Linked DNA regions of Homo sapiens: regions 2 and 3 are each linked to region 1. The links come from fine-mapping of genetic effects on gene expression. A gene starts in region 1. Each other region holds a variant in brackets. All regions are shown on one strand. Distances are from middle to middle. Region 1 holds the start of ZFPM1 (zinc finger protein, FOG family member 1). Region 2 holds the start of ZFPM1-AS1 (ZFPM1 antisense RNA 1). Region 3 has its middle 6.0 kb from the start of ZC3H18-DT.

Evidence for each region. PIP is the estimated chance that this variant, and not a neighbour inherited with it, causes the effect.
Region 2: its variant is the best candidate, but not a certain one, in a credible set for the expression of ZFPM1 in thyroid (GTEx, PIP 0.76).
Region 3: its variant is the best candidate, but not a certain one, in a credible set for the expression of ZFPM1 in whole blood (Lepik 2017, PIP 0.64).

What each region holds. Positions count from the first base shown.
Region 1 is chr16:88,451,851-88,454,600 of GRCh38, forward strand. ZFPM1 (zinc finger protein, FOG family member 1) reads left to right here and starts at 1,430. Exons shown (of 10, transcript NM_153813.3): 1 at 1,430-1,828. The coding sequence starts at 1,789. RefSeq lists silencers at 1,155-1,454, 1,465-1,554, 2,015-2,144, 2,365-2,434.
Region 2 is chr16:88,529,080-88,531,829 of GRCh38, forward strand. All of the region lies in intron 6 of ZFPM1 (zinc finger protein, FOG family member 1), which reads left to right. It overlaps ZFPM1-AS1 (ZFPM1 antisense RNA 1), which reads right to left and starts at 1,974. Exons shown (of 4, transcript NR_148997.1): 1 at 1,853-1,974; 2 at 1,363-1,529. The variant A/T (reference allele first, on the strand shown) is at 1,361.
Region 3 is chr16:88,554,597-88,557,346 of GRCh38, forward strand. No RefSeq gene overlaps it. Among named protein-coding and RNA genes, the nearest start is that of ZC3H18-DT, 6.0 kb to the right of the region's middle. The variant T/C (reference allele first, on the strand shown) is at 1,282.

The sequences.
Region 1 (2,750 bases):
CATGGCAGTGGGGAGGGACGGCGCATATCCAGTGTTGTACCCCTGCCTCTCCTACCCACCCGCCACTCTCCTGTACCAGGCTCTGAGGGTAAGCCCCCACTTCTCCCCTTCCTTGGAGCCAGGGAATAGGTCACAGAAGTTGGCACGAGATGGGGTCTTAGGAGCTCCCAGCAGGCTGGCGGGTGGTGTGACAGTCCTGCTGTGCGATGATCTCATCATCAGGTGGGAGGGGTCCTTCCTGTCTGCCCCTGGGCCCACTGACGCCCGTTTCTTATGAGTACGGGGGATGGGGGAGCAGGTAGCAAGTGTAGACCGAGAACATTAAAAGGAGATGATACAACTCAGCTGGGAGTGGGGGACAGCCCCCCAATGCGTGACCTTGAGCAAGTCCCCGAGCCTCCGTGAAGTGGGGCTCTTGAACACACCCCAGAGGGCAACAGTTCTCCATTTCCAGGCCTGAGCTGACAGCACCGCGCCCACAAACCTCGCTGACCTCTGACTGCTCCGAGAGGGGGCTGTGGCCCGGGCGCTGTGGGCAACTCCTTCGTGGGTCTCCTGCGGGGCGCCCTGGAGAGGCTCGGTGAGGAAAGAGGCCCCAAGTGGCAACGCCCAGGGCTGCCGGCTCCCGCGCCCCCTCCTCGATTTCCAGCCTGGTCTGAGCTCACAGGGGAAGACCCGAGATCCTGCTCTCAGTTGGCGGACCCCACCGCAGTCTGGGACGGAAGCCCCCTCCCTGGCCCGAATCCGCTCCACACCCCAAGTCTGGCCCAAGAGAAACGTGGGCGTCAAGGCCTCGGGCTTCCTGAGCCGGTTGTCACTGCCCCCACCGCGCACGTGGAGCGTGCGGCAGAGCCCAGGGGTCTAGGGAGGGACCAAGGGCTGGGGGCGGAGTTACAGTGCGGGGGCGGAGCCTCGGCGTCTCAGGACCCAACCAGGTCGGGTCAGGTTTGGAGGCGGAGCTGGCGCCGAGAGGCGGGGCGCAGGATGCGGTGCCGCGGGGCAGCAGAACAGAACCGAATAGGTCTCAGACTCCCAGCGCGGCCTGGGGACATGACCTCCGGGCCAAAGAGGAGTGGGGGAGGCTAGAGGTCTCCCCGGGGCGCGGGCGGGGCCGAACCAGGAAGGGGCGGGGCATCGAGCGGGGCGGGGACAGTGCCTTGAAGGCCCAGACGGACAGGGGCGGGGCCGCAGCGCTGGGGTCGGAGCCAGCGCCGTAAAGAGCGAGGCGGGCGGGGGCGCGGTCGCGGCTCTGGGGGCGGAGCCAGAGCAACGAAGAGCCGGGCTGGCGGGGGCGTGGCCGCGGCGCTGGGGGCGGAGCCGGAGAGGTGCAGGGCCCGGCAGGAGGCACGGGGCGGGGCCGGAGCGCCGGGGGCGGGGCGGGAGGTGCGGCGGCCGACGACGCTCAGGCCCGGCCCCGCCCCGTGCCTCCAGCCCGCCAGGAGCGCCCTCGCAGTGGCCGCCTGCTCCGCCGCTCGCCGCCCGCGGGTTCCATTGAGAAAAGCCGAGCGGCCGCGGCGGCGGCGGCGAGTGCGCGGGAGCGGAGGAGCCGGCACCCGCCCGTCGGGCAGTCCGCGCGCCCGCAACGCAGGACCGTGGCCTCTCGGGCCTCCGCGGCAGCTCCAGCGGCTCCGGGGCTGGGCGCGCGGGCTGGGGGCGCGGGCCGGGGCGGCCGCGGAGACCGGGGGCCGGGGGCATGAGCGGCCCCGCGGCCCCGCCGCGCCCCCGCCGCCCGCCGCCGCCCGCCCGGGGCTAGAGGCGGCCGCCGGGAGGGCGCGCGGCGCCGGAGACATGTCCAGGCGGAAACAGAGCAACCCCCGGCAGATCAAGCGTGAGTCAAACTTTGCCCGCGGTCCCCTCCGCGCGCCCGACCCCCGCCGGAGCCCAGCCGCCAGCGCCGCCCCCGCCCGTCCCCGCTCTGCCCTGGGCGCCGGCGACCTTCACCCCGCGCCGCGCCCCCCGCGCTGTGCCAAGCGCGCCGTAATCTAATCTCCGCCGGCGGCCTGGGCCCCCGCGTCTCGGCTTGGGCACCGGGGGGTTCAGCCCAGGAGGGGGCCGCCCGGAGGCCGGGAGGAGGGTGTTTGGGGGCGCGGCCCGGGCAGCTCGGCCCCTCGCGGCCTGCCCCTCCCCCGCATCTGCGAGATGGTGCGGCGATAGGGCGGCCCCGATCTGGGCTCAGATAAAGTTTAAAATATTACATTCTGCAAGTCCCGTCCTGATAAGATCGTTCTGTCGGGACGGGCTGAAATTGTGATCTTATCTCGCGCGGTTGACTCTCCCAGGCTTTGTATCTAGAAGCGAAGAGAGAGACCTGGGAGGCAGAGGGGACACCCGGGGCCGCGGAGATGCCTGGCCAAGTGGCAGGCACCGGCCCGCGCCCACCCCCACCGGTGCCGTCGCAGAGCCGCAGGACAGGGGAGGGGGTAGCGCGCAGCTGCCGCAGCCTAGGCACTTGGCTCCAGCCCCCCAGACACCCCCACCCCGTGCCCTAGCGCTGAAGTCCTGAACCCAGGCCCCGCCAGCCTGGTGACACCTCCTGGACCCTGCAAGTGTCCCAGCCAAGGCGGCATGGGCAACAAATGGTGCCCTCGGATGCCCGCGGGCACCCCCTGGCATCCCAATGGGCTGCTCTGAGTCAGAGAAGGGCCTCCCAGGACGCAGCCCCGGGCCGGGGTCGCCCCTGCACGCCACTAAGTTTCTCGCTGGTCCGGCTCCCTGCCCGGTCAGAGGCTGCTGCCCCGCCGCCACATTGC
Region 2 (2,750 bases), 77 kb after region 1:
GGCCAGACTGGGCAACACAGAAGATCCCATATCTGCCAAAACTTTGAAAAATGAGCCGAGGGTGATGGTGCGCCCCGTGCACCTCTGTGGCCAAGGACAGCGCGTGGCCATCGTGGACAGGCACGAGTCACGCAGGGAACACGCAGCAAGTCTGGCTCCGGCCAGCGGCTGGGGCTTCCCAGGGGAACAGGGACGGCACCGGATGGCGTTTGGAGGGGGACGGTAAGACTCAGGTTTAGCTTTGGTGACCACAGAGTCACAAAACTGGAAGAAAAGCGACCTTTGTGAGCAAGTCGGATGTGAAGACGGCTTGAAGTAGGTGGAGGCAGCCAGTGGTTAGGGGCAAAGAGACCTGCAGGGCCAAGTGTGCAGCCACTGGGGGGATGTCAGCCCGTATGAGAGTCAGGGGAGCAGACCCCCACTCTTTGAGTGTCCTGACATCAAGACACCTGCTACATGCAAAAGAGAAGCCACAGAGTCCACTGAGGGACAAGGATGGGGCTCAGAGAGCCCTGGGGCCTGTGGACCCTGGAGTCAGGGGACAGGGGACATCTCCCAAGGTACGGAGAGTGAGCTGAGATAGGTTAGAGGGGGTCCTGGAGGGCGGCAGGTGGTCTGGCACATCCAGGCTGTGGCGAGACCAACAGCAGAGAAATGACTACTGGTCCTGACAGTGCAGAGGTCGCCATGACCCTGACCGAGGCCGCTCCAGGGAGGGTCAGAGAGGAGGCCTGCACAGGGGCCAGCTGGCCAGAGGGGGATGGGCTTGTGTGCCTGGTAGCCAGGACATAATAGCCCATGTTATGTGCTGGTGGGAATAGCTGGTGACACTGGAGAGAACGGGCCGAGCGGCCAGGTCCACACCTAAGCCCAGGTTGGGGGCAGGGGCTGGGCAAGCCACTGCCCCAGGGAGCCAGGAGGTCAGAAGAGAACACGGGCCGCAGGTGACTGAAAGGAGCCGGGAGCAAAGGGGGTCCCCATCTGCCTTCTCCTCTTCCCTGAAGAAGGCACGGAGGGGATGGGAGGCCATTGCACCCCTCCACCAGGATGGAGAGGGGGTGCCCCCGTAGTGTCTCGGGGTGCCCGGGAGACCCAACTCCAGGGGAACACCCCGCTGATAACGCCAGTAAGACAGTGGGGACAGCAGGCTGGTGAGGGTCCCGTCCTCCAGCAGGGTCCTTGCCCACACAGCCTGCGGAGACCACCTCCCAGTCCCTGAGGGGCAGCTGCGGGTGCCCCAGGCTCAGCCTCTGCCTCGGTTTCCCCCTCGCGGGTCTGACATGCCTCATCCCCAGGCAGCAGTGTCCTGGGAACGCTGCTTCGGAAGGACACCACCGTGAGCCACACATCTTGTTGACAT[A/T]CCTGAGTCCTGCCCTAGCACTTCTGCGGCTGCCAGGGCACGGCCGACGCTTGTCTGCTGCTCTGGAAGAGCCGCAGGAACCAATTCCAGGGTCAGATCCAGTTTCATTCTTGAGCCTCCGGCACTCTGGGCCCATCTCGCCTGTGAAGCGGGATGCAGAGGCACCTGCCTGGAGGCCCCTCCGCAGGCCACCAGATTTGGCCTGTGGTCACCAGCAGGCGGGCAGCCTTTCTAAACTGCATGGCCACGGCCCCTCTCCCCACACCCCTGCAGCAAGAGTCCCCCACAATGACCTTGGAGACGCAGAAACAAACCCACCCAGTGGCCTCCCAGGTCTGGGACCCAGCTCAAGGCCTCAGCTGAGAGAGGACAGAGCTGCCTGCAGCCCCCAAGTAAAAGGAACTTGAGAAACAGAAATCAACAGCACAGGAGGGAGATGTGAGCCAGAAAAGTCGTTAGAACAGCGAGGTGGAGGAGGAAGAGCCACCTCACCCAGGCACTGAAATTCCTCCCAAGAGGCAGAGGTGGCGAGCAGGCCGCAGAGGGGAGGGCGCGGGGGTAGGGGCCACCCCTGCGTGATAACTGCAGACTCAGGATCAACATCGGAGAAGCCGGGTGAGAAACCAGCACTAACCTGCAGAGGCAGAAACCAGATATCACATCAGTCTCTAAGTGGAACGGGCTTGAAAGCCAGATAAGGAATCCCAGGGCCCCTGGGTTCCACACGGAGGCCAAGGCCAAGCTGAACAGGTCCTTCCCTTCCCTGTCTTCAGCCAAGGGGCCATGGGCAGATGGGGCAGGGCTCTGGGGCAGAGAACATTCCTTAAACTGCTATAAAGACAAACCGAGAACACGCTAGAGAAGTCCTCCCCTGCTGGCAAAACCACCGTAAGCAGAGTGCAAGCCCCCAAAACTCTCAACAGTTATAAGCAGCCCATTTGGGGTCAGTGTGGTAAATTCGACAAATCTGACCAGCCAGGTGGTCACTGACATGGAGCCGCCCAGGTGTGTGGGCGCATGGGGGCTTCCTAACTTGTGCACTCCTGGTCTCATGCCCACATCCCTAGAACTGCAGTCAGCAGCCATCGTGTGCCTGAGTGCCCAGGGACTGTGTGCGTGGGTTTTCTTTGCAGCCTGGCACTCCCACGCACCTGCACGCACATCTGTACACACACGTTTCCTCTTCCACGGCCTCCCGGGTCCACACGGTCACCCCAGTATGTCATGGATGCTAGCCTCACCTGGCGGTGTCCACTTCTTCCTTCTGCCCCCATGAGGCCAAAGCATCTCCTTATGGGGCTCACCATTGGAAGGGGACCCATAGGGGTTCACTCAGACCCCACTCCCCACGGGTCCCAGGGCTCCTGGGATCTACGGAAGGGAGTGGGGC
Region 3 (2,750 bases), 100 kb after region 1:
GGACCCGCCCGGATAATCCAGGGTCATCTCCCCTCTCTTGATCCTTAACTCAGTCATATCTGCAAAGTCCCTTTTGCCAGTGGGGTCCCAAGGGAAGAGCAAGGGTCAGGTCTGGAGCACTCAGGAGGAGAGACTCGAACCTGGAGGTTATGGGCGAGTTCACACCAGGCCCCTGCCCTTGCCTTGTATCTCAGGGACCCAGTCTCTGTCCCAGCCCTCCTCCCTACTCCTTCCGCTGGTCCCGCCTCAGCCAGGCCCCTGGGAGCATTCGAGTCCTCATCTGAAGACCCGCAGCAGCAACCTCGGCCCCACCCCCAGCCCAGCTGGGCCTCCCTGACACAGCCTTCCCGCCTCCTCTCTTGAGCAGGGATGGGCAGTGGGCAGCTGGGAGGCAGGGAGACAGGGACAAAGGACTCCCCTTCCAGGGCTGGTCCAAGCCCCTCCATGCTGGCGCCAAAGGCCTGGTTGGCTTTGAGGGAGGCCCTGCAGCTCCCAGCCTCCCCGCTCCCTCCCACAGCTGCCAACCCTCCACCAGGGAACCCTTGTCTGAGCCAGGGGCCACCGCCCTTCCCCACGGCCCCATTCCTCCAGCCTTGCAAGGCGCCAAGCAAGGGGCATCTCTCTCCCTCGGGCCTCATCCTGCACGCCTGACCTTTCCCATCCCAGGTGTTATCATAACCTTTTAGCAGAATTTTGCCTTAATTCTCAGCATTTTTGGCTTTCTTTTTTTTTTTTTTTTGATAGAGTTTCACTCTTGTCACCCAGGCTGCAGTGCAGTGAGGCGATCTCGGCTCACTCCAACCTCCGCCTCCAGGGTTCAAGCGATCCTCCTGCCTCAGTCTCCCAAGTAGCTGGGATTACAGGCGCATACCACCACACTCAGCTAATTTTTTGTTTTAAGTAGAGACAGGGTTTCGCCATGTTGGCCAGGCTGGTCTTGAACTCTTGACCTCAAGTGATCTGCCTGCCTCAGCCTCCCAAAGTGCTGGGATTACAGGCATGAGCCATTGCACCCGGCCCCCATCCCAGTGTGTTACCATAAACTTTTAGCAGAATTTCCGCTTAATTCCCAGCATTTTCAGCTCCAAGTCTTAACACTTCCCCTCTGTCTTAATGTGGCTCCAGTGGCCCTTCGTCTCTCCCCTGCCCCTTCCATGCCTCCCGCCCCATCCCCACCCCCTCTGCCCACCCCCTGGCTCCTCTCCACCCCCAGCCCCTCCACAGCTCTTTGTCTCCACCTCTAAGACTGGGGCTCCTGGAAGCCACTGGTCCTCATCTTAT[T/C]ATCATCCTGGTCTCCACGGAGCCCAGGACGGAGACTCACACAGCTCAGTGGAGCGTCGCCAAGCTCGGAGGGCACGCAGCACCCTAGCAGCACCTGCAATGGCACCTGTGCTCTCTCTCGGGAGGAGATGATGGCCCCAGCTCAGGGCCCAGAATTCGCGCCTGACTGTGCCCCCTTCCGGACCTAAGGACCGCCCTCTGCTGTGCTGGGACTGCCTATGTCTAGACAGAGCGGGGCTCACTCCCCGACCCAAAGGGTTCCCCAGAGTGTGGCCCCATCTCCAAGGCCCTGCTGCCCCCACTGAAAACCCGCCCAGCCCATGGTGAGCACCGCAGAATTCACAAGGCGCTTCCTGCAGACACTTTCTCCCAAGCGGGCCATGCCTTCATTGCTACTCAGATCTCCCTAAAGCCACTGATGTGGTTTGGCTCTGTGTCCCCATCCAGATCTCATGTCGAATTGTCATTCCCAAGGTTAGGGGAGGGGCCTGGTGGGAGGTGACTGGATCACGGGGGTGGATTTCCCCCTCACTATTCTCAGATAGTGAGTTCTCACGAGATCTGATGGTTTTAAACTATGCGGCACTTCCCCCGCCCCCCACTTTCTCTCTCTCTCTCCTGCCGCCATGTGAGGACGTGCCTGCTTCCCCTTCACCTTCCACCATGATTGTGAGTTTCCTGAGGACTCCCAGCCATGCTTCCTACACAGCCTGTGGAACTGTGAGCCAATTAAACCTCTTTCTTCATAAATGACCCAGTCTCCAGTAGTTCTTTAGAGCAGTGTGAGCCTGGACTCACACAGTCACCCATTTCCGGGACCTTTACCACCAGGCCAGGCAGCCACCAGTCACTTTACACACAGCATCTCGTTTCCTAGCACCTGGGCGAAAGTGCTGTTTTCAGCTCTACTTACAGGCAAGGATGGAAAACCCAGAGGGTTCAGCCAGCCTCACCTGCTCGGGAGGGCACAGCTGGGCCGCCTGTACTGCCTTAGAAGGAGAAAAAGAGAAATGGAAACAGGCTCCACGCTGGGGGCCACTATTCTTACCTCACCATAACCTCACAAGGACTGAGCACACCACGGGGGCTCAGAAACCAGGGTCCCCGCTCAGAAACTGGTCCCCTCACTCACACGTGATGTGGCCACTGAAAATGGCTGGGTGCCCTGGCCGGGCGTGGTGGCTCAAGCCTGTAATCCCAGCACTTTGGGAGGCCGAGGCGGGCAGATCACAAGGTCAGGAGATCGAAACCATCCTGGCTAACACAGTGAAACCCTGTCTCCACTAAAAATACAAAAAATTAGCTGGGCGTGGTGGCAGGCGCCTGTAGTCCCAGCTACTTGGGAGGCTGAGGTAGGAGAATGGCGTGAACCCGGGAGGCGGAGCTTGCAGTGAGCCGAGATCACACCACTGCACTCCAGCCTGGGTCACAGGCAAGACTCCGTCTCAAAAAAAAAAAAGACATCCATG